Linked DNA regions of Homo sapiens. The protein of the gene in region 2 purifies or fractionates together with the protein of the main gene of each other region. This does not show direct contact. Each region holds a gene or a part of one and is shown on either strand. Other genes may lie near its edges. The genes, in order: ZNF644 and ADNP2.

Region 1 (10,701 bases), on a different chromosome or scaffold from region 2:
TGCCCTGGCAGGCTCCTCCTCCTCTTACTCTTGAAATCCTCTGCTTTTTTCCTCCTGGAAAGTTACTCTCACAGGGCTGTTTTTCTTCCTAACATCTCTCAATTGTCAAAGGATTTCTTATCTTGAAATTAAAAGAATAAAAATATACTAACTTTCCATAATCACATAAGAGTTCCCAGGAAGTTCAAAAAGGATAGTAACTACTGCCAGGTGCGGTGGCTCACGCCTGTAATCCCAGCACTTTGGGAGGCCAAGGCGGGTGAATCACCTGAGGTCAGGAGTTCGAGACCAGCCTGGCCAACATGATGAAACCCCATCTCTACTAAAAATACAAACATTAGCCAGGTGTGGTGGCCGGCGCCCGTAATCCCAGCTACTTGAGAGGCTGAGACAGGAGAATCACTTGAACCTGAGAGGCAGAGGTTGCAGTGAGCCAAGATTGCACCACTGCACCCGCGCCTGGGAAACAGACCGAGACTCCGTCCCCCAACCAAAAAGAAAGAAAAAGAAAGGATAGTAACTCCATGGTTCAACTTGGCAGATCTGCAAAAAAAATTATAATGCAGCAACTAAGGCCTTAGAGACAAGAAAACACCTTTTTCATGGGAACTTCCTCTCCCTGAAGAAAGACAGAATTTAATTTAGAGTCTTACTACCCTCTGGGTCTCCTGTGATCTTCATGTTTGTTTCTTAAGGGGAAGAGGAGAAATCTTTTAGCCAACCAGCAGGGTGAGCTAGTGCTAGCATCAGTTCCATGATTCTCAAATCTCCCAAAACTCAATGGTGTAAACGGCTTGCACTATTAACAGCAGCTATTTATTTCCCTCTAATAAACCTGAATCAAAAACACCACTTCTAGAACTGCTTCAGTCAATGCTATACCTGACAACTTTACTCAATATTTACAGATTCTCCATATACGAAATAGACATTCTCTCTACCAGAAAGATTAATAAGTGTAAATAAAAGCTCATTTGAATATGTATCCATAGTATTACAGTATCCACTCTTCATTCTCGTTTTATTTTACAAGGTTACTAATTTAAAACATTTAGAAAACAGTTTAAAAAATGGTTAAAACAAGTGCTCTATAAAATCAGGGTTAGATAACTCAACATGCCAATTTCTCCATTTGCTGCAAGCTACAATTGTCTTAAGACCTGACTGAAAAGCCTTCCCAAGAATAAGATTCACTTTTCCTTCCAGAATCACATCCTGAGAAAATGGTCTAAATAAGTAACACTAAAAAACAATATTTAGGATGACAGAAAAAAAATGGACCTGACCTTTCTCTAGATTGCAGATATCCCACCACTTCTATTCTCTTTGAAACTTTCTTTTCTCCTCCTGCTACCCATTAACAGTCTCAATTCAACCAAAACACTCTTATAACTTGAATGACAAACTAAAACTGGAAAATGTTTAAGGTTGGCAGGTGACAGACCACTTTATAACTACAAATAACCTGAAAGTGACTCTAATTTTCACAAAATGAAAGTGTAAGTAAATCCACTCACATAATGTTGAAAATTATAAAACAGCTTATCAACTAACAAAAATCAGTAATTTAAAAGCACCTTATATGACCCATAAAAACTTTTAAAACCTTAAAACAATTTAACTTTTTGCTAAATCTGACATTCAAAGAAGTTAAAAATCACTATAGGGTTCCACCATAAATGACTGTCACTACTTGTTCAATTTCCTAACAGACCTTAGAGGTACCACTCAGTAGAAGTAGTAGTCTTAAAAAGTTGTTTTAAAGAAAGGGAACATTCTGAGTGGCACATTCGTTTATCCAACCAAAACACTATTACAAAATGAAAGACACCATTATTTTCAGCATTGATCTCATTTCTTTTCCTACATAATAACTGGCAATAACAGCAGTTATTTCAAACTTTCAAAGAAATTTATCAAGTCCCTGGTTGTTGTTTTTTAATTTTTCAATTTCTGGGTCAAGACTGCATTTGGAAAACCTTAAAATTCAAAAGCAACATTGCTCTGAAACTATCTGATATTTCTGTATTTTGTACCTGATTTTGTTTCACTGAAAGTCACTTTAAAAACCAAGTTAACCACAGAATATGAAAGTTTTTTTGTTTTTTTGTTTTGAGATGTAGTCTTGCTGTGTCACCAGACTGGAGTGCAGTGCCACGATCTCAGCTCTCTGCAACCTCTGCCTTCCGGGTTCAAGTGATTCTCCTGCCTCAGCCTCCCGAGTAGGTGGGACTATAGGCACCACCACGCCCAGGAAATTTTTACATTTTTAGTAGAGACGGGGTTTCACCATGTTAGCCAGGATGGTCTCGATCTCTTGACCTCGTGATCTGCTCGCCTCAGCCTCCCAAAGTGCTGGGATTACAGGCGTGAGCCACCGTGCCAGGCCAATATGAAAGTTTTTAACTTATTGTCACAGAAGTTCTCATGAACCTAACAATATTTAATTAACAAGTATTCTCAATAACATTCCCTTGTTTTTTTAACCATTAGTTGTAGATATTCACCTTCTCATCCCAGCAATATGACAAATACAAACAGCAATGGGTAGAGGCTGAAAGGCAATTTTCCATTATGCCACTAACTTAATCATCTCTGGTCCTCAATATATTGTAAAAGAGGAGGGTAAGAGCAGTTGTTCTTTGATATTGCTTCCACTGTAAAACTTTATGATCCAGGAATACATTTGCTAATGTTAATGCATCTCCTATTCATTAATACAAGACTGTTCTGTATTAGAAGCTAAAAAAAGAGAAAATATATATCTGAAAAGAACAAGGAAATGAAAGTTAACTAATGTTGAAAAATTCAAATTTCAGTTTGAACACAGAGATCTACACAGTGATCTAATGTGTTTAAATATCCCTCCAACCAAGGAATTCTGTTAATTGCCAACACAAAACATTAGGTGTTTCAAAATTTTGTACTTCATGAGTTAATACCAACACAAAGTATGATATAATTGCAGTATAACTTTAATTTGTTAGAAATTGTAAGACTTTTAAAAGCAATACATACCACTGCATTAATACTAATCAAGCTTTATGCTTCACCAATTAAAATGTCTAAGCTAGATTATAGCCTTATTATAAAAACGAGGTTTTTCTTAGCAAGCCTACCAAAATGCAATATTACTGCCATCAAGTTCCCTAGATACTTACACATGCAACTGAAGGCAAACAGCCAGGTTTCCTTTCTTTGAGAAACTTTAGTTGTCTATTTTTTGAAATGTTTTCCTTCTCATGGGACCAAAAAATGTTTACAACTAAAGCAAACTACTGCAGGGAGGGAATACACAATTAAAACAAATCTACCATCCAGATGCAACAAGCGTGGAATTAGGACTGGACAGGATAGTCGGCGGTGTTGTGATACTTCTGTTGAAATTATTAACAAGACAAGACCATCATTCGCCCCCAATTATGTTTATCCCCTCGTTGAGTTTGATGATCACACAAAATCTGAAGTCTAAATATAAACGTTTTTATATTCAAAGTCAATATTCAAGAAAACTTTTCCACTAATGTTGCTAAACCATAGATGGATCCCAACAAGAGTTGTCTGTAGAAGTCTCGTAACAAGTAACCTTTAGCTCCACCACCTAAGTTTCCAATCACTGAGAAGAGTCTGGGACAACTCATCTTCAGGTTCACGGGAGAAGTGGAGCACACCTGCTTTCCTCTGGCAGAGTAACTTCCCAGGGACACAAAGGCCAGAGAATCAGACCTGGAGAGGCAAAAAGCTTTAGCTGGACACCCACCAAGCCCCTGGCAACCCAAACACTTCGAGCGATTTACCTCTTGCTGTTACTTCCCAGGCACCTAGCCGCATAAGATCTTGCAGGACGGGGGGAGGGGAGGGCTATGCGGTCCTGTCCCAAGTAAGGGGAGGGGTGTAGACAGTTAATGCCAGAGCCAGCGTTTCTGGCCACAACCGAGCAGCCTCAACGAGAGGGGTTGGTGACTGCTCTCGGCCCGCCCCGTTACTCAGTGCATTGCAATGGCGACCGCCAGGCTCCCCAAGCCGCCTGATCTCGGCCCCTTCCCCCTACTGCTCACTGGCTGCTCGGCTTCATGTGACTAAACAAAACCCCCAAGTCTAGTGCCCAGCTCAGCCCCTTTGTGTCCGCTACCGGATCCTCCGACGCCGCAGCGGAAAGCCCCCCCCCCATCCCCCCGCCGAGTCCCGCCCCGCGGCGGCGGCCGCCGCTCACCTCAGGCTCCGTGGCCCCCAGCGACCGCCGCGGCCGCCGCCTCCCCGAACCCGGGGCCCGGGCTCCTTGTGTAGCACCAACTCCGCCTCCTCGGCCGCCGCCGCCATCTTAGCCTGTGCGGCAAAATGCGTCCTTTTGGATGGCTGGGACCCAGCCTAGGGCGTAGCTCCCCGGGCCCGAGAGCCGGAGGCCGGGTCCCCCAAGTTCTTCCGCCACCCTCAGTCCCGCCGCTGCCACAGCCCAGAGGCCCGAAACCCACTCGGGTCCCAGCGAATCTGACCAAATAACCCCTGAAACTCACAGTTTGGTGCCGTGTGCGTCAAACCGGGGCGACGTTGGGAGCACGCGGCGTCCCCGCGTCACACGCCGCTCTGTACGCTACTCGGCTCCAGCGGCCCCCCTCCGCTCCCCGCTTTTCGCCTCCAGCCCCGGTTCCCACGGCGCAGGCGCGCTGCTTTCCCGCCTCTGCCGGGCTGCGGGCCGCGGGGGTGGCCAGCGAGGAGCTCCCGGGAAGCTTCGCGCTGGTGGAGCGTCTGGGCCAATTAGACAAACGAGGGCAGCGGAAACAGTGCACCACTGTTCTCGGGTGCCAGAAACCAAACAAGGTCACCTCCCCCAGCGCTGACCTAATCACTCCCAAGGAGGTTCCCGCCCCAAAGTAGGCACGCTCCAAATATGGTGGTGCCCAAACTCTGCAAGACCCAAGCACTAGGCATGCCTAGGCCCTTTAAGGTGGAACAGGCCCAGGTTTGAGTTCCACGATCACGAGCGTGCAAAAATCTCTGTTATTTTCCTCTTGTTGAGGAAAACAGCAATATTTGCCAATCACAACTGTGGAGTAATGGCAGAGGGAAGGTTTTAGGATCTTAAGGGGGCAGATTGTTGGGAGTTGCTTGATGGCCAGGCAAAGCATCAAGTGTGACATCTCAGTTACCCGGACAGCCTGCCCTGAAAGGTGGCCGAGGTTTGCTCCAGTTTGACTCTCTGAGGATACTCTCTCCCTGCATTACTGAAAGTGTCGTGGTTCTACGAATTAAAGTTATATAAGAAGCATGTGAGATGCTGGTTAACCCTTCAGAGAATCAGTCCCTAGAGGGTTCTGGAAATTTTCATTTTTAACAAGACTTCACCACAGGATCCTGGGGCAGAGAAACACTGAGTGGGCTATTCTTTTGTTTTTCGACTGAGCCAACGAGAAACTGCTAACATGTTTAAGATTAACCAAGAGTTCTTGAGAAATCTACTGGTCCCGCCTTAATTATTTGGCTTCTCTGAACCTCTGTTTACTCATTTAAAAATTTAAAAATAAAAAAGTTTTCCTTAGTTGTACAGCTGTCATTACTGTGGCCCTCCAAACCCTCAAGATGTTATTGACATTCGGAAGAATATACCATAACTGCATTTATTTGACAAGAATGAGAAACATTCTCTTTCCTATGGAATGATGCCTTCAGCAACAGCAAACGTAGATTCCAAACAACAAATATTTGACTAAACACATTAATTGCTTCATTACTTAATAGCTAACACTTTTGAGTGCTTACTGTGTACCAGGCATTGTTCTAACTTGCTCGATTTCATTGTAACCCAATGAGACAAAGAGGAGTAAGGTGATTTTCTCGAAGTCATACAGTTCTTTGGGCTCTTTAAAATGCAAATCTCCTGTCTTCATTTACACAAATGTGTAAACAATAAAATATAAATACGTATATATTTGCAGTCAATGGGGGAGGGGTGCTCTTTGGATCATTTCGTTTGCAGAATCCATTAAAATTGGACATTCTCAGTTTACTATTGGACTTACTACAAAATATTATGTACTATGGAAATTCTTACATTATATCACTGTAAAAGCAGTTACTAAGAAAATAACTGTCATTAATGTATACCACTGACTAATGTGCAGACAAATCACACAAGCAAATAGAATCATTCAGAACTCAGCCATGATCAGGAACTTGTCTCACTAATGAAGCTGTTTTTTACACTAGAACTCAGCAACTGAATTGTAATACTGTGGAAGTCATAATAGCAGTAAAAGTAATCATAGTAATTATAATAGTAGAAGTAGTAATAGTTGATGAAACGCTGTACAAAATGGATCTCAAAAGCTTCTATGAATGGCAGAAAATATAATGACAGAAAGCTTGAATAAGGTAATGCGAAAAGAAAAAAAAATACACGTGAGTTCTCTGTCTAGCCGCAGACGTGGGTCTCTGTTCTGCAGGATGGGGTTTGTAAAAGTTATTAAGAATAAGGCCTACTTTAAGAGATATCAAGTGAAATTTAGAAGACGACGAGAGGGTAAAACTGATTACTATGCTCAGAAACACTTGGTGATACAGGATAAAAATGAATACAACATACCCAAATACAGGATGATAGTTCGTGGAACAAACAGAGTATCATTTGTCAGATTGCTTATGCCCGTACAGAGGGGGATATGATAGTCTGCACAGCATATGTACACGAACTGCCAAAATATGGTGTGAAGGTTGACCTGACAAATTATGCTGCAGCGTATTGTACTGGCCTGCTGCTGGACCGCAGGCTTCTCAATAGGTTTGACATGGACAAGATCTATGAAGGCCAAGTGGAGGCAACTGGCGATGACTACAATGTGGTAAGCATTGATGGTCAGCCAGGTGCCTTTACCTGCAATTAGGATGCAGGCCTTGCCAGAACTACTACTGGCAGTAAAGTTTTTGGCACTCTGAAGGGAGCTGTGCATGGGGGCTTGTCTGTCCCTCACAGTACTAAATGATTCCCTGGTTATGATTCTGAAAGCAAGAAATTTAATGCAGAAGTACACAGGAAGCACATCATGGGCCACAATGTTGCAGATTACATGTGCTACTTAATGGAAGAAGATGAAGATGGTTACAAGAAACAGTTCTCTCAATACATGAAGAACAGTGTAACTCCAGACATGATGGAAGAGATGTGTAAGAAAGCTCATGCTGCTATACGAGAGAGTCCAGTCTGTGAAAAGAAGCCCAAGAAAGAAGTTAAAAAGAAGAAGTGGAACCGACCCAAAATGTCCCTTGCTCAGAAGAAAGATTGGGTAGCTCAAAAGAAGGCAAGCTTCCTCAGAGCTCAGGAGCGGGCTGCTGAGAGCTAAACCAAACAATTTTCTATGAGGATTTTTCAGATAAAGACAATAAACTTATGGACAGAAAAAAACATACAGGCAACTGAAAAAATCCAAAGACAAGTTATGTGGCTCAGTGCCAAAATATTTAAGGAAATCACAGTTGAGAATGAAAGTCAAGATGTGGAAAACAGTTTGGGAGAAAATTCATAACACATTGTGAATAAAATGATGCTCCAATGAATACACCTGGTAAATGTTTTAAAGAAATAAAAAGCAAGATGCTGGTTTTTGTTGCTGTTGTTGTTTTTAAACTTTTATTTTAGGTTCAGGAGTACATATGCAGGTTTGTTATATAGGTAAACTCATGTCACTGGGGTTTTGTACAGATTATCTCATGACTCAGGTACTTAGCCTAGTACCCAGTAGTTATTTTTTTCTGATCCTCTCCCTCCTCCCACCATCCACCCTCAGGTGGGCCCTAGTGTGTGTTGTTCCCTCCCTTGTGTCCCTGTGTTCTCATCATTTTGCTCCCACTTATAAGTGAGAACATGCAGCCTTTGGTTTTCTATTCCTGAATTAGTTTGCTAAGAATAATGGCCTCCAGCTCCATCCAAGTTCCTGCAAAGGACATGATCTCATTCTTTTTATGGCTGCATAGTATTCCAAGGTATATATATACCACATTTTCTTTATCCAGTCTACCACTAATGGGCATTTAGGTTAATTCCAAGTCTTGGCTATTGTGAGGGATACTTCAGTGAGCATACACATGCATGTGTCTTTATGGTAGAATGATTTATATTCCTTTGGGTATATACCTAGCAATAGGATTGCTGGGTTGAATGGTAGTTCTGTTTTCAACTCTTTGAGAAATTGCCACACTGCTTTTCACAACAGTTGAACCAATTTACACTCCCACCAACAGCATATTAGTGTTCTCTTTTCTCTGCAACCTCACCAGCATGTTATTTTTTGACTTTTTAATAATGTGGCTACTGTTAATATGTTAAAATCTGACCATATTAACACAGTGTATGAATCCATTAGTGATTACCAGATTATCAGTGAATGGAATTACCTGATAAAAAACATAAAGTGGCCAGGCACGGTGGCTCATGCCTGTAATCCCAGCACTTTGGGAGGCCAAGGCAGGCAGATCACGAGGTCAGGAGATCGAGACCACCCTGGCTAACACAGTGAAACCCTGTCTCTACTAAAAATACAAGAAATTAGCCGGGCGTGGTGGCGGACGCCTGTAGTCCCAGCTACTCAGGAGGCTGAGGCAGGAGAATGGCGTGAACCCGGGGGGCGGAGATTGCAGTGAGCCGAGATCCCGCCACTGTACTCCAGCCTGGGTGACAGAGCAAGACTGCGTCTCAAAAATAAATAAATAAATAAAGTAAGTTGTGGTCTCAAATGACTTGCTCAAAAAGAAAATGCAGTTCAGTGTTGGATAAAAACAAATAATTCTCCTCATTCCAATGCTTTATAATTCCAAGCAAAAAGAAAGAAATGAAACATTAATCTACTAGTAATAAAGTCAAATCAAGTTTGGATTTTGCTCAGTATCCCACTAGTTCTGGATCAACCTCTTAATACCAAAACTGTAAAGCAAGTCACTCTTGTGGAACTGCAAATAGTTCAGTATGTTTGTTCATTGGAGTGGGGGTAGGGAGGATGTGTGGAGTAGAAAGAGAGATGATGTAAACAGAAACCAAGTTTTGTATTTATTTTTGTTCCACGCTGACCTGAGCACAGAGCTTTACACATAGCAGGTATGCGATAAATAATTCCGTTCAGTTCAACCAACATTCGTGGATTGTTTACTCTATGCAAGGTACTGTACTAGGCACTGTCAGAAAAAAATGAATAAGACAGTTCCTTGAAGCTATTCAATAAATACTGTTGAATGAATGCAGTGCTTTTATACTTCAAAGAAAGAGCTAGACAAAAAGGTACAATCAACTCTCAATTTACCAGGGAATGGAGGACATAAGGAATAGATAATAAAGTTCTCCAAATCTCAGTTAAAAACAAAGGCTCATAAAACATAGTACAAAATAGATTTAGTATACACATATTTAATGAAAATTATATCTAATATTCAGAAACACATTTGCTATTCTACTCAGCATATCATTATGCATGCCCCCTGGAGGATGTGAAGGTAAATAGAACACACTCAGCTCTCAAATATTTTGTGGTGGAATGGATCAAAAGTTGCATGTTCATGTGCATGTGCAACTTGCGTGTTAAAGTTGACAAAGAAAGAGATCAGCTCATTGTTCAATTGGTGCTTCACCTAGTGATGATAATGCTGTGGTATCATTTTCCTCTGGAGTTTGGCTCTTAGCTTTGCAGGTTGAGAATCAGTTGAACCAGAGTTGATCAAGCGCAGATAGATGAAATGCGTAAGAGATTAATAAGTAAATCAAACGCTGATATATTAATTTACAGTAAAATTTTTGACTGCCAATCATAATGGAATACCTAAGCAGACTGGTCAGCACATTCCCTCTCTGTAGAGAAGGATGCTAGGAACACCAATTTACTTGCTTGATGAGCATAGAATTAGATGAATATGATCTCAGCAGATGGTATCATGAAACTTTGATAGCAAATTGCACTCTGCCATGATGATGTACCTGTCAAGGGAACTTGGACGGTTTAGTCTGCTTTCACCAGGACAATAACTCTTTTAAGAGTTAAAATCTTTCTTTTAAGATATATAACATACAAACCACAAGAAGATGAAGTATTTATAATCCGTATTTCATCAATTCTATTACTTTTTTTAAAAATGTTGTAACATTTCAAATTGTGTCTTACAATCATAATTTGTAATTACCAGTTTTTTCTTTCGTAGGGGTTCATAAAATAAGGGCACACCTTTCAGTGGTATCTTAGAATCTAGTGGAATGTGATAATTGCATGACTTTTTTTAAACTCCCTTACTTCTGTTTTGGTAAATTGACTTTCATCAACTTAGTAGTTGCCCCACTACATCATTACGTACACAGCCTAAGTTCAAAAACTATGTCAAGCTTTATTTTCCTCAATTCATATTCTGATCAGGCTGTCGTAATTGAGCTAAGTTCCCAAGGGATACAGGACACTGGAGGATAGTTCATCCACAGATGTATTCTTAGCTTCTAAAGTAACCCAGACTTGGCTGTGTGCAGTGGCTCACGCCTGTAATCCCAGCACTGTGGGAGGCCGAGGCGGGCAGAGCACCTGAGGTCAGGAGTTCGAGACCAGCCTGGACAACATGGTGAAACCCTTTCTCTACTAAAATACAAAAATTAGCCAGGTGTGGTAGCAGGCGCCTGTAATCCCAGCTACTCAGGAGGCTGAGGCAGGAGACTCACTTGAACCCGGAAGGTGGAGGTTGCAA
Region 2 (9,990 bases):
AGTGCTAGGAGGTTCTAAAGAGGACATGGCTATGGAAAGCTGGTGCCCAAGACATACAAGGTGAATAAATTAGCATCAAAAAATTATTGAGGTAAAGAAGGAAAAGTCTGAATTTATTTGGCAAAAGTAAAACCAAAAAGGTGGACTGGAATCAAACTGGGAGAGGAGTGGGAGGCAGAAAGGGTTAACATATAATAGGGAGAAATTTTTGGTGGGTAACAAGCAAACACCAAGTTTTTGAGAAGCTGTTTTGAAGCGGATAAATTTCTTTTCAAAGTTATCTATGTGAAAAATGTATCCTGGTCTCAGCAAAAGGAGAGATTTAAGGATCATTAGCATTGTAGAACTGGGAGGATAAAAATTTAAAAATTTTCTTTATAAAATTTTAAGTTTAAAAATTTTCTTTAATAAAATGCACTGATTTGGGTTCTAGCCTTCAAAAGCTTACACTCTCACACAAGAGCTGCCATAACCTCATTATGCATTTCTAAACACTAAGCTCAAGGTCACTTTCTGGCCCAGTCCAGCTTCTTTGGTCAGAGCAAAACTCAACGAAAATTTTGTTAGCTGCTTTCCAGGGACTCTATCAGACTTGATTTCATTTCCTCCTTAAAGTTCCACTATCCTCTCTATCCTCTGGGGTTCTTCTCCAAAAGCTGGCTGACAAACAGTGTTGTCTAAAGTAGGGACCATCATCCATATGTATCTGAAACAGGGAAGCTAAATTTACTGCTTCCAAGAAAATCTCAACTCACACAGCCAGAGCTGATCTTATCACAGAGTTTTGAGAAGCCTGGGATACAAAGACTGGTGGACTTTTAAAAGCAGAGTGATTGGGGATTGGCTGATTCATGTAAGCATGGTTGTACATACATGAACCTCAGAAAGGGGTTACTAAAATGAGGCTCTCAGAGATTGGGCAGGGGTCTGTGGTTACTTGTTCAAGGCTTGGGACTAGGGCCAAGGAGTTGTCACTTTTTTATTTTTTTCCCTTGAATTTGAAAAATAGGAACTTTTTATTCTCAAATGAAAGTGCTTCCATTCCTTCATCGTTATTGTGGCCCTTCTAAACAAAACAAAACACAAGCACACAAATACCTTTTCATTTAAAAAAAGGAGGGGGAAAAGTTCCCCCCTCCTTTTTTTTTTTGTTTAGCAGTTTCCTAACTGCTTTAGGGAAACCAACAAAGGATAAAAAATAAAATGCAAGTAAATTACAGGTTTCATAACTGTTGCCAACCACTTTGGGGATGGGAAGCTGACTTTTACCCATAATTTATCCATTCTAAGCTACCACAATTTATTCATTCTTAGATCCATTCTTATAGCATAATTTATCAATCCTAAGATAAAATATTCCATGTAAAATGCCCAGTGGATGAATTAACTATGAAATAGTTCAATGTTTTCATATTTATAGATCCTCTATAGATACTGTTCTCCATAGAATCTTAGAGCTCAGTAAAATCTGTATTTTCACCATTAGAAAACAGCAGGCTAACCGGGGCGGCCAACTATTTCCACATCATGCACCAACCTATCAATTTCAATTCAAAATAAATCTCAATTCCTAATGTTTAGGGTAGGCATGGAACTACCATAAAATTCCACTGATATGCACAAGAAAATATTATTTCCCAAAAGGGTACATAAAGGACTTCTCTGGGGATTTTTTAGTATAATGATCTCGTAAGGATATTCTATTATAGAAAAAAAAATACATTCTAAAAGAAAATGTTGGCCGGGTGCAACGGCTCACACCTGTAATCCCAGCACTTTGGAAGGCTAAGGCGGGCAGATCACCTGAGGTCAGGAGTTGGAGACCAGCCTGACCAATATGGTGAAACCCTGTCTCTACTAAAAATTACCAAAAAATTGGCTGGGTCCTACTCGGGACGCTGAGGCAGGAGAATCGCTTGAACCCGGGAGACAGAGGTTGCAGTGAGCCGAGATCACACCACTGCACTCCAGCCTGGGCGACAGGGCAAAACTCCGTCTCAAAAAAAAAAAAAAAAAATGTCATTCAGGTAATACAGTAATAAACAATACTTTTTAAGCCACAGAACTTTTTTTTAGTTCCTGTGAAATCGCACAAAACGATGGTCACCAAAAAGGATTCTGGAGTTGTGTGCCCGGGTTTACATCAGCTCCACCATTTATGAGCTGTGTAATCTTCAGGAAATCACTTACTCTCTCCAGGCCTCAGCTGGCTCTTCTGTAAAACAGGGCGAGTATGACCTAATTCACAGAGTAGTTATGAGGATAAATGAGTTAATACATGCAAAACAGCACATAAGCACTGAGTTTGCTATTAATTAACTCCAAAAAACTAAATGAAATGTCCCAACTATTGGAATACAGGACTTTTTAAAAAGCAACTTTAAAAACACAGAATACTTGGATCATATATTCAGCAGATCTGGGTTCAAATCACTGGGAGATACCGGTTTCCACCTATGTAACACATTGCCCTAACAGGTCTAGGATAGCCAGAGGATGAAGGGCAGGGCAGAAACCAAGTTTGCAATATGCTATTGGTGAACTTATGAGGGCAATCATAAATTAACCAACAGCATATTGCAAACTTGGGTTCAAATTAAAAACGTGTCTCCCAAATCCCAGAATCTCTTCAGCTAAAAATCTTAGCATAGCTGTCATCTTCCCCCATAAACAGTGATCAACTCCTTTCAGACATGTCCTAACCCTCACTGTTCCTCCCCTCAACTAGAGGGCCGGTAGGACAACCTCTTGTCTCATCTTCACTCTTGTACTTCCTTTCTTAACACACATCTGTCACTTCATGTTTAAGGACGACGGGCTCAATGCTGTCTTCGCAGTGAAGTCCTAACTCCAACCGAAATTTAACCGAAATATTAATACACACTCATACATGGCCAACTCTCCAAGAACATCTTTAAATAAGTTACACATACATTACCGACTTCCAAATACAGCTGAACATGTACTTTACACAACTCTTTTTACATGTGGTCCTCTCTCCCACTAATGCTCCTCACCCCCAAAAATGGTACCCAGACTCCAAACCCCCTCTTTTGATAAAGGCTCTGCGTGGCAGATGCCCACAGTACTCTACAAACTGCTGCCCCACTTGCCAATCTGCATTGTCAGTTACCTGCTTACCAGTTTCTCCTCCCCCACCCCACTCCTCCACAGCCAGTATATTCCTCAAGATCCCAAGAGGCAGTGATTACCCGTGCAAATAGAGTAAGTTTTAAGCACGCAGGCAAGTCTTCTGTTCAAATAAACTACTTAAAATATCTAATTATTTCTCATTCTGCATCTGTACAGTATTTAAAAGGGCAGTTAAAATTAACATTCCAAAGTCAACTGTAGTAGAAATTTTGTAAACGGAATCTATTTCAATGCAACCAGCAACGGCAGATGAAAAGTAATGTTAAAGTCAACATCTGTATATCAATTATTGATATTCGCATCAAAAGCTCAACGATGAAGAAACAGGGCCCCGTTATCAGCTGTTCTTCAAACCTTTCTAGGGAAAAAAAAACCTGGGCAGATTTAGGTGTCACCGTCAGCTCCTGACCTACATCTGCCGTCACTCAAGGCTCCTCCAGAGAGAAGCTTCCAGGAGAACCCGGTCTCGGGGATGCGGCGGGCGGGCCAGCGGGCGGGGCGTTTCTGGAGTCCTTACAGGGGTCGCCACAGCTCCTTGCCCCCTCTCTTCTTCTCCATCCCCGTTCCCTCTCCCTCTACTCCTCGCTCCCTTCACCAGCCCCCCTCTCTCCCTCGGTCCCCGTCCTCGTCTTTCCCCTATTCCTACTCTCCCCTCAGGTCCCCATCCCCTTCTCCGCCCTCCCGGGGCGGCCCCCGCTCCCACGTGACCGGCGGCGGGCGGGGCGGGCCGCGGGCGCGTCGGGGGTCGACGGGCGCCGTTCGGGCCGCGAACCCGCGCCCTGAGAACGTCCCGGGATTCCCGAGGCGGCCACGGGCGGCGCGAGGGCAGGCGGCGGGCGTGGGTGTGGGCTGGGTACCGGCGGGGGCGGGGCTCGGAGGGGACCAGACTGGGGCGGGGGCCAGGACCGGGGCAGGGGGCGTCGCCGCGCGGGCCCGCGCCGGGCCGGGCCGTACCTACCGCTTGGCGCCCGAGGAGCACCGCGTCTCCGCTGCTGCCTCTCGCAGGGCTGCCGCGTCTTCCGCCGAGCGCAGCCGCGTCCCGTGGGGCCGCCTGCGCCCGCCCGCGCCTCCGCCCCGCGCGGCGGGACCCCCGCCTCAGCGCGCGCCCACCCCCAGCGCGACTGGTCCCCTCCTCCCGCGCAGCCAGAAAGAGAAAATGGCGCTCGATTGGCCTCAGGAAGTGACGTTGGCCCTCATTTGCATGTAGGCGCAGCCAGCCAATGAGAGCAGAGTGTGCTTGGGGGCCCCTGGCACTTCCCACAGGCCCCCCGGGGCCCCTGGCTAAAGATGGACTGGAGGCTCTGGGGTGGCAGTGGGGGGCCCCTGTTGGACCCCCTGACTCCCTTCTGTCCCAGGGAACTGCCCTGCCAGCTCCTTTCCACATCTGTGCAAACTCTCGTGAGAGTTTGAGTGGGCAATGACGTCACTAAAGGGGTGGGGAGAGTGTGTCATCAACCATGTGACTAATCACGTGGACTCACCACAGCTTTGACTTCATTTGCATGGAATGGGGTGGAGCTAGTGGCAGCTCCAGGAGTGGTGACCCCGCCCACATCTCAGAGCCAATGGGAGCCCAACTGTGATAATGCTGCCTTGCCATTGGAAGACAAAACTTTGGCTCCCAGAACTGGGACAAGTGTGCCATGATTGGCATATCCTGGTGAACCGACTAGCTGGGGTCTCCTGACTTCATCATTCCTGTGGGAAAGTGATCACACCTTCTCTTGAGAATTCTGATTTTTAGATCTACTACAAGTTGTGTGGGGAGAGGGTTAATTGCATACATTTGTATAAACTCTTAACCTAAAAGTTCATTTTTGCACAGGTGTTTATCAATTGTGTAGCAATAATAATTTATTCCACAAAATTAGTGGAAACATGGCGTAGGGCTTTCAAAATGGCTCTAGGTCTTCGTTCCGTGGAGTCCCCAGGCCTCTGGCGGACGCCCTCGTGCCCCAGAGCACGTGGGAGTAACCACGAGGGCAGCGCAGGCGCCTCCCCCAGTGCCCCTAACCTTAACCCTAATTCTGACCCTGCACCTGAACCTCACCTAGCACTAACCCTGACTCTGACCCTAACTCCCCTCCAGTGTTCCTTCCCCTGACCCTAACTCAGCCGCGCCCTCAGTGGCTGTTCCAGGCAGTTCCTTCTTGGCGAAGCCGTCTGCAGGACACGTGCCCCTTTCAGCACAAGGCCACGTCTCCTTCCAGAGCGCCGAGCCCCTGCAACCCGCCGCCAGCCTCCAGCCCTGAGGCCCACTCCAGCCACCGCGGGGCAGAGGCCGTGCCCAGGCTGGGCCTTCCGCCCACCGCCCTCTCCAGAGCCTCCTTGTCACCATCCGCTCGTCCATAATTTCAGCTTTTCCCTCTCAATGGGAGCCTTCTGCTCAGTTTAGCCCAGTGACTAAACACATAATAGGCACTAAATTAATGTCCATATTCGTTTTAAAACTGTGTTAAATGGTGGGCCGATATGACCTGACCAAAATTTGCTTTTTTCCTACATGAATACAAGTCATAATTGAAGTAGAGTTTGCCCTTTATGTTTGCTGACAAGTTAAGATTTTACTTTGAGTTACAGTGGTAAATGGGTGTGATGTCCCTATATATCTTCCTTGCAAAATTATGGGTGGGATGAAAAGTGTAGTTAAAGCCTGCAGTCTCCCATTGATCCTCTAGTGACCTCTCATTTTATCACATTTCTCAAAACAGCAGTCCCTGTGTCTGTCTCCTCAGCCCCCTGCACGCCTCTCGCCCCCACCCTCACCACTCTGCAGAAACGCCTTGGTCACCAGCGCCCTCCTAATTGCTGAGCCCAAAACAGATTTTAGGCCTCGTCTTTCTGTATCTATCTTCCATTTGTTACTACAGACCAATCCCCCTTTCCTACAGACCTCCCGCAACAAAGCCGCCCCACCACCACTACTCCTCAAACGGGCTCTTTAATCTCCAAACTCGGGAACTGTTTCCTAATCTACAGACCTCCCCCCACAAAGCCGCCCCCCCCCACACCCACTACTCCCCAGACGGGCTCTTTCATCTCCATATTCACGAACTGTTTCCTCATCTTCGCCTGCATCTCTTCCCGGCCCATCCTTGAACGCGGTGTTCTCTGGGATCCTGCTGACTTTTTCCTTCACGGTGCAGCACATATGCGCCACTCGCTTCCTGTGTGCCAGGCACCGTGCTGGGTATTGGAACTCCCACGCCTTTCATTTTTTTCTGCATTTTCTCCCTTGTTAATTTCGACCACAGATTCAAACCTTGTTATGTCAATTCCAAACCAGTATCTCCATCTCTTTCCTACGTTTCAGTTTTATTTTTCTGGCTGCCAAAGGGGGCAGCTCCACTTCAGAGTCCCACAGGCAACTCAGATTCAAAACGTTCAAATCTGAGCCCATCATTCTCTCCTCAACAGCCTCTCCTACAGCAAGCAGTGTGTTCCCCATCTCCAGTTTTCCAATTTTATATCCCAAATATTCGTCAGATCTCTTCCCTCATCTGCAGCCGCACTATCACTACCTGCATTCAGGTCATCTCCTGCCTGTAACACCTGCACAGGCTCCCACCACCTTACCTCCAGCTTGGTGCCTCAGGTACTTTCCCCAGTCAGCCCTTTTAGAGAGTGAACCTGACTGTCCTTCCCTTCTTGCTGCAATCACTCAAAATCCCCCAGGAATCAAGCCCAGCTGGTGAGCACGACACACAAATTCTCCAAAGCTGACCAGTCAGTCCCCAGCCTGTAAACACCACACGGTGTTTGTTCATGGGACTCCTGTCCCAACCCCTGAGCTAATTTTCATTCCATTGCCATTCAAGGCTGAACTCTACCGGCCTCTCTCCCAGAAAGATCTCCCTGAACACACACACACACACACACACACACACACACACAGTCAAAATATGGTAGGTACTTCTTGACATTCCCAAAACATTGTGTGTGTCTCCTGCTGCCCTCACCACGTTGTTTACTGTTATCTGCTCACTGCTTGTCTCTCTATGGGGCACCAGTAAGGACCGTGTCTCATTCATCATTGTATCCCTGATGCCTACATTACTTTAATAAATACAATATCAACATTTTCATAAATACAAATCTAATAAATATAATAAAATTTAAATGTTGAATGATTTTCCCCCTGCATTTTGCTATGAAAATGTTGAATGTACTGAAAAGCTGAAATAATTGTTCAGAAAACAACCATCACCTAGCTCTTCCAGTTAACATTTGCTTACTTGCTTTATCGCATATGTATTCAAATATTCATCTCGACTGTTTTTTTTTTTAGAAAACATCAGTACACCATCCTTAAACACTTCAGCATGGATATCTGATGAATACAGTTTAAAACCACCATCCACAGCATTGAGATAAAAAGGACTGTCCCTCCCACCACAGAAGGAATGAGCAATGTGACCTGGGGACTTGTCAAGATTATTTTCATAGACTCAGGAAAGTGCACCACACTGAAGTCATCAAACCGAAGACACAGGTTGGGCCTCAGGACTTATCTACCAGGCGAGTCACAGCTCATGCAGGTTTATTCTGCACACCCGCTCCTGAATAACAAGAAGACCACAGACTTGGTGGCAGTATGAGTAGATTCCTCGACCCCGGTTGTTCAGCTAGGTTTGAAAGTGAAGATGGCCCATGTGGAAGCTTCCCACTCTCTCATCTAGGTCCCCCTATAACCAGCATCGGCATTTGTAAGATAGTTGTTCAGAACAAAGGGAGCCCCAGAGTTGACTGTGGCAGCCACAGGCACTGTTGTGTGAATTAGAAAAGCAGGGGCCCTCTGGGTGTGTTGCTGTCCTCCGGGACCTGGATGGTCAAGATGAAGGTGCCTTGATATGTTTTTCAGTATCACTTCCTCTGCCTCTGTGCAGACCCAGCCTCACAGCAGGGCACAGACCTATGTGAACAGAGCGAGCTGGATTTCAGCTCCCACTTCCCGCTCTGCTCACTCTGTGTAAAGACAAGTGTGAACAACTGTAGTCAGCAGCCCGACTGGTCTACGCACAGACGACTGTGCACATGCAAGTGTACAATCCAAGAAACTGCAGAGTTCATCTAAAACCAGTGAGCCACAGGAGAGGAGAGCTTGGAGAACAACTTACATGTACTCTTTCTCTACTTTGTTTTTTGAGGTTTCTTTTTTTCTCTTAGAGACAGGGTCATACTCTTAGAGGCAGGCTGCAGTGATAGGATCATAGTTCATTGCAGCCTCGACCTCCTGGGCTCAAGGGATCCCCCCACCTCTGCCTCTCAAGTAGCTGGGACTACAGGTGTGGACCACCATGACTGGCTAAGTTCTTCGGTTTTGTTAGAGAAAGGATCTCTCACTATGTTATCCAGACTGGTCTCAAACTCCTGGACTCAAGAAATCCTCCCGCCTCAGTTTCACAAAGTGCTGGAATGAGAGGCGTAAACCACTGCACCAGGTTATTTCTCCCCTTTATTCTGCATACGCTCTGTGTAGGTCCAGCAGGCACCAATAATACAGTGCTGAGCAGACTCCATCCCTGCTCTCCTGGAGCTTAAGCTAATGGAGGAGAAAGGCATCCGCGAAATAACTACATGATGAAAATATAATTATAAACCTTGGTCAATGCTCCTGAGAAAGGAAATCTCCATATATGCCTGTGACCCAGAAACCTGATGTAGACCAGCAGTCTCCAAGAAGCAGGGTCTGGGATCAGAGGATAAGTAAACACTGGCAAAGCAGAGCTGTGAGAGGCGGAGAAGAGAGGTCTGTGAGAGGCCCCAAAGAAGGCCTGCGCCTGAGGGAGCCTGGCACAGCCAGACCAGAGCAGTCAAAGTGCAGGCCACAGGAAGACGAGGATCACAGGGGAGGCCAGGGCCAGGCTAGGAAGCCATTTGGGTCTTATTAAGACCAAGGAGAAGCCAAGGAAGTGGTTTCAGTGACCGGGTTGATAAGATCACATCTGCATTTGAAACGTACAGCAGGGCTTGTCCTGCGGAGAAAGGAATGTTGATTGAGGAAGGGAAGATGAGGCTTAAGAGGAGGTTGTGGGAGCAGTCCTGGTGAAAAACGATGACAGCTGGGAACTTAAATGAGGGTGATGGCAGTGAAGATGAAAAGAAGTGGCCAGCCTTGAGAGAAACTTCGGAGGGGAGGGAACCTGCAGTTGTTGGCATGGAGAGCTGGAGGCAGGCCCCAGAGGTGGGCGCTTGTTTTTGTGGATTTACTGGCTTTGGAAATATGCTTGGCTTTCTCTAGTTGGTCCTGAATTGGAAGTGGAAACAATAAAAGCATGGAAAACTGGCAGTCATTGACTAAGTCCTGGCCATTCTGGTCTGATTGCTGCAGAGGCATAGGTCAGAGATCGTCTTACACGGTCAGACCATTGTCTGTTGGCACATTCAGTTTGGTCTCCCTTCCCCTTTTGGTCATTCTCTCATTGGAGAGTTTGGACAGCTCAGGGGAGGCTAGAGATCCAGATCTTCACAGCTTGGGGGTTGTCTGGTTGCCTCCATAGGCAATCATTTCATGAGAATTCTTTTATTTGTGTTGTTGTAGCATCATGGAGATCATCTGATGACAGAGCAGCTGCACAGAAGCATTGCAGACTCTGCAGAGGATGCAACCAACAGCATCATGACCACTGTGACAAAACAAGACTAATAGTTCTCATAAGATGCTTCTGAACTGGGAACACCAGTTTCCCATCCCAGGACAAGAGAACAAATCCCATAAGCCGTGAGGATCAGCCTTAAAGAGATAAATAGTTTTTTCCTTATGGCATTGTATAGTCTCTTCCACTTTGCCTGTTCTGTTCATCCAAGTGCAGTGAGAAGTACTAGCAGCAGCACAGA

Evidence for each region.
Region 1: the proteins of ADNP2 (region 2) and ZNF644 purify together in Homo sapiens (affinity purification with mass spectrometry; 2 studies listed by BioGRID and IntAct, with this or other methods). This does not show direct contact.

What each region holds. Positions count from the first base shown.
Region 1 is NC_000001.11:91,017,476-91,028,176, forward strand, and holds the start of ZNF644 (zinc finger protein 644), read right to left. Parts: upstream 4,561-10,701; 5' UTR 4,515-4,560; exon of another isoform or gene 4,214-4,514; intron 4,009-4,213; exon of another isoform or gene 2,508-4,008; intron 1-2,507.
Region 2 is NC_000018.10:80,103,594-80,113,583, reverse strand, and holds the start of ADNP2 (activity-dependent neuroprotector homeobox protein 2), read right to left. Parts: upstream 4,323-9,990; 5' UTR 4,112-4,322; intron 3,694-4,111; exon of another isoform or gene 3,563-3,693; intron 1-3,562. UniProt on the Homo sapiens protein: May be involved in transcriptional regulation. May play a role in neuronal function; perhaps involved in protection of brain tissues from oxidative stress. May be involved in erythroid differentiation.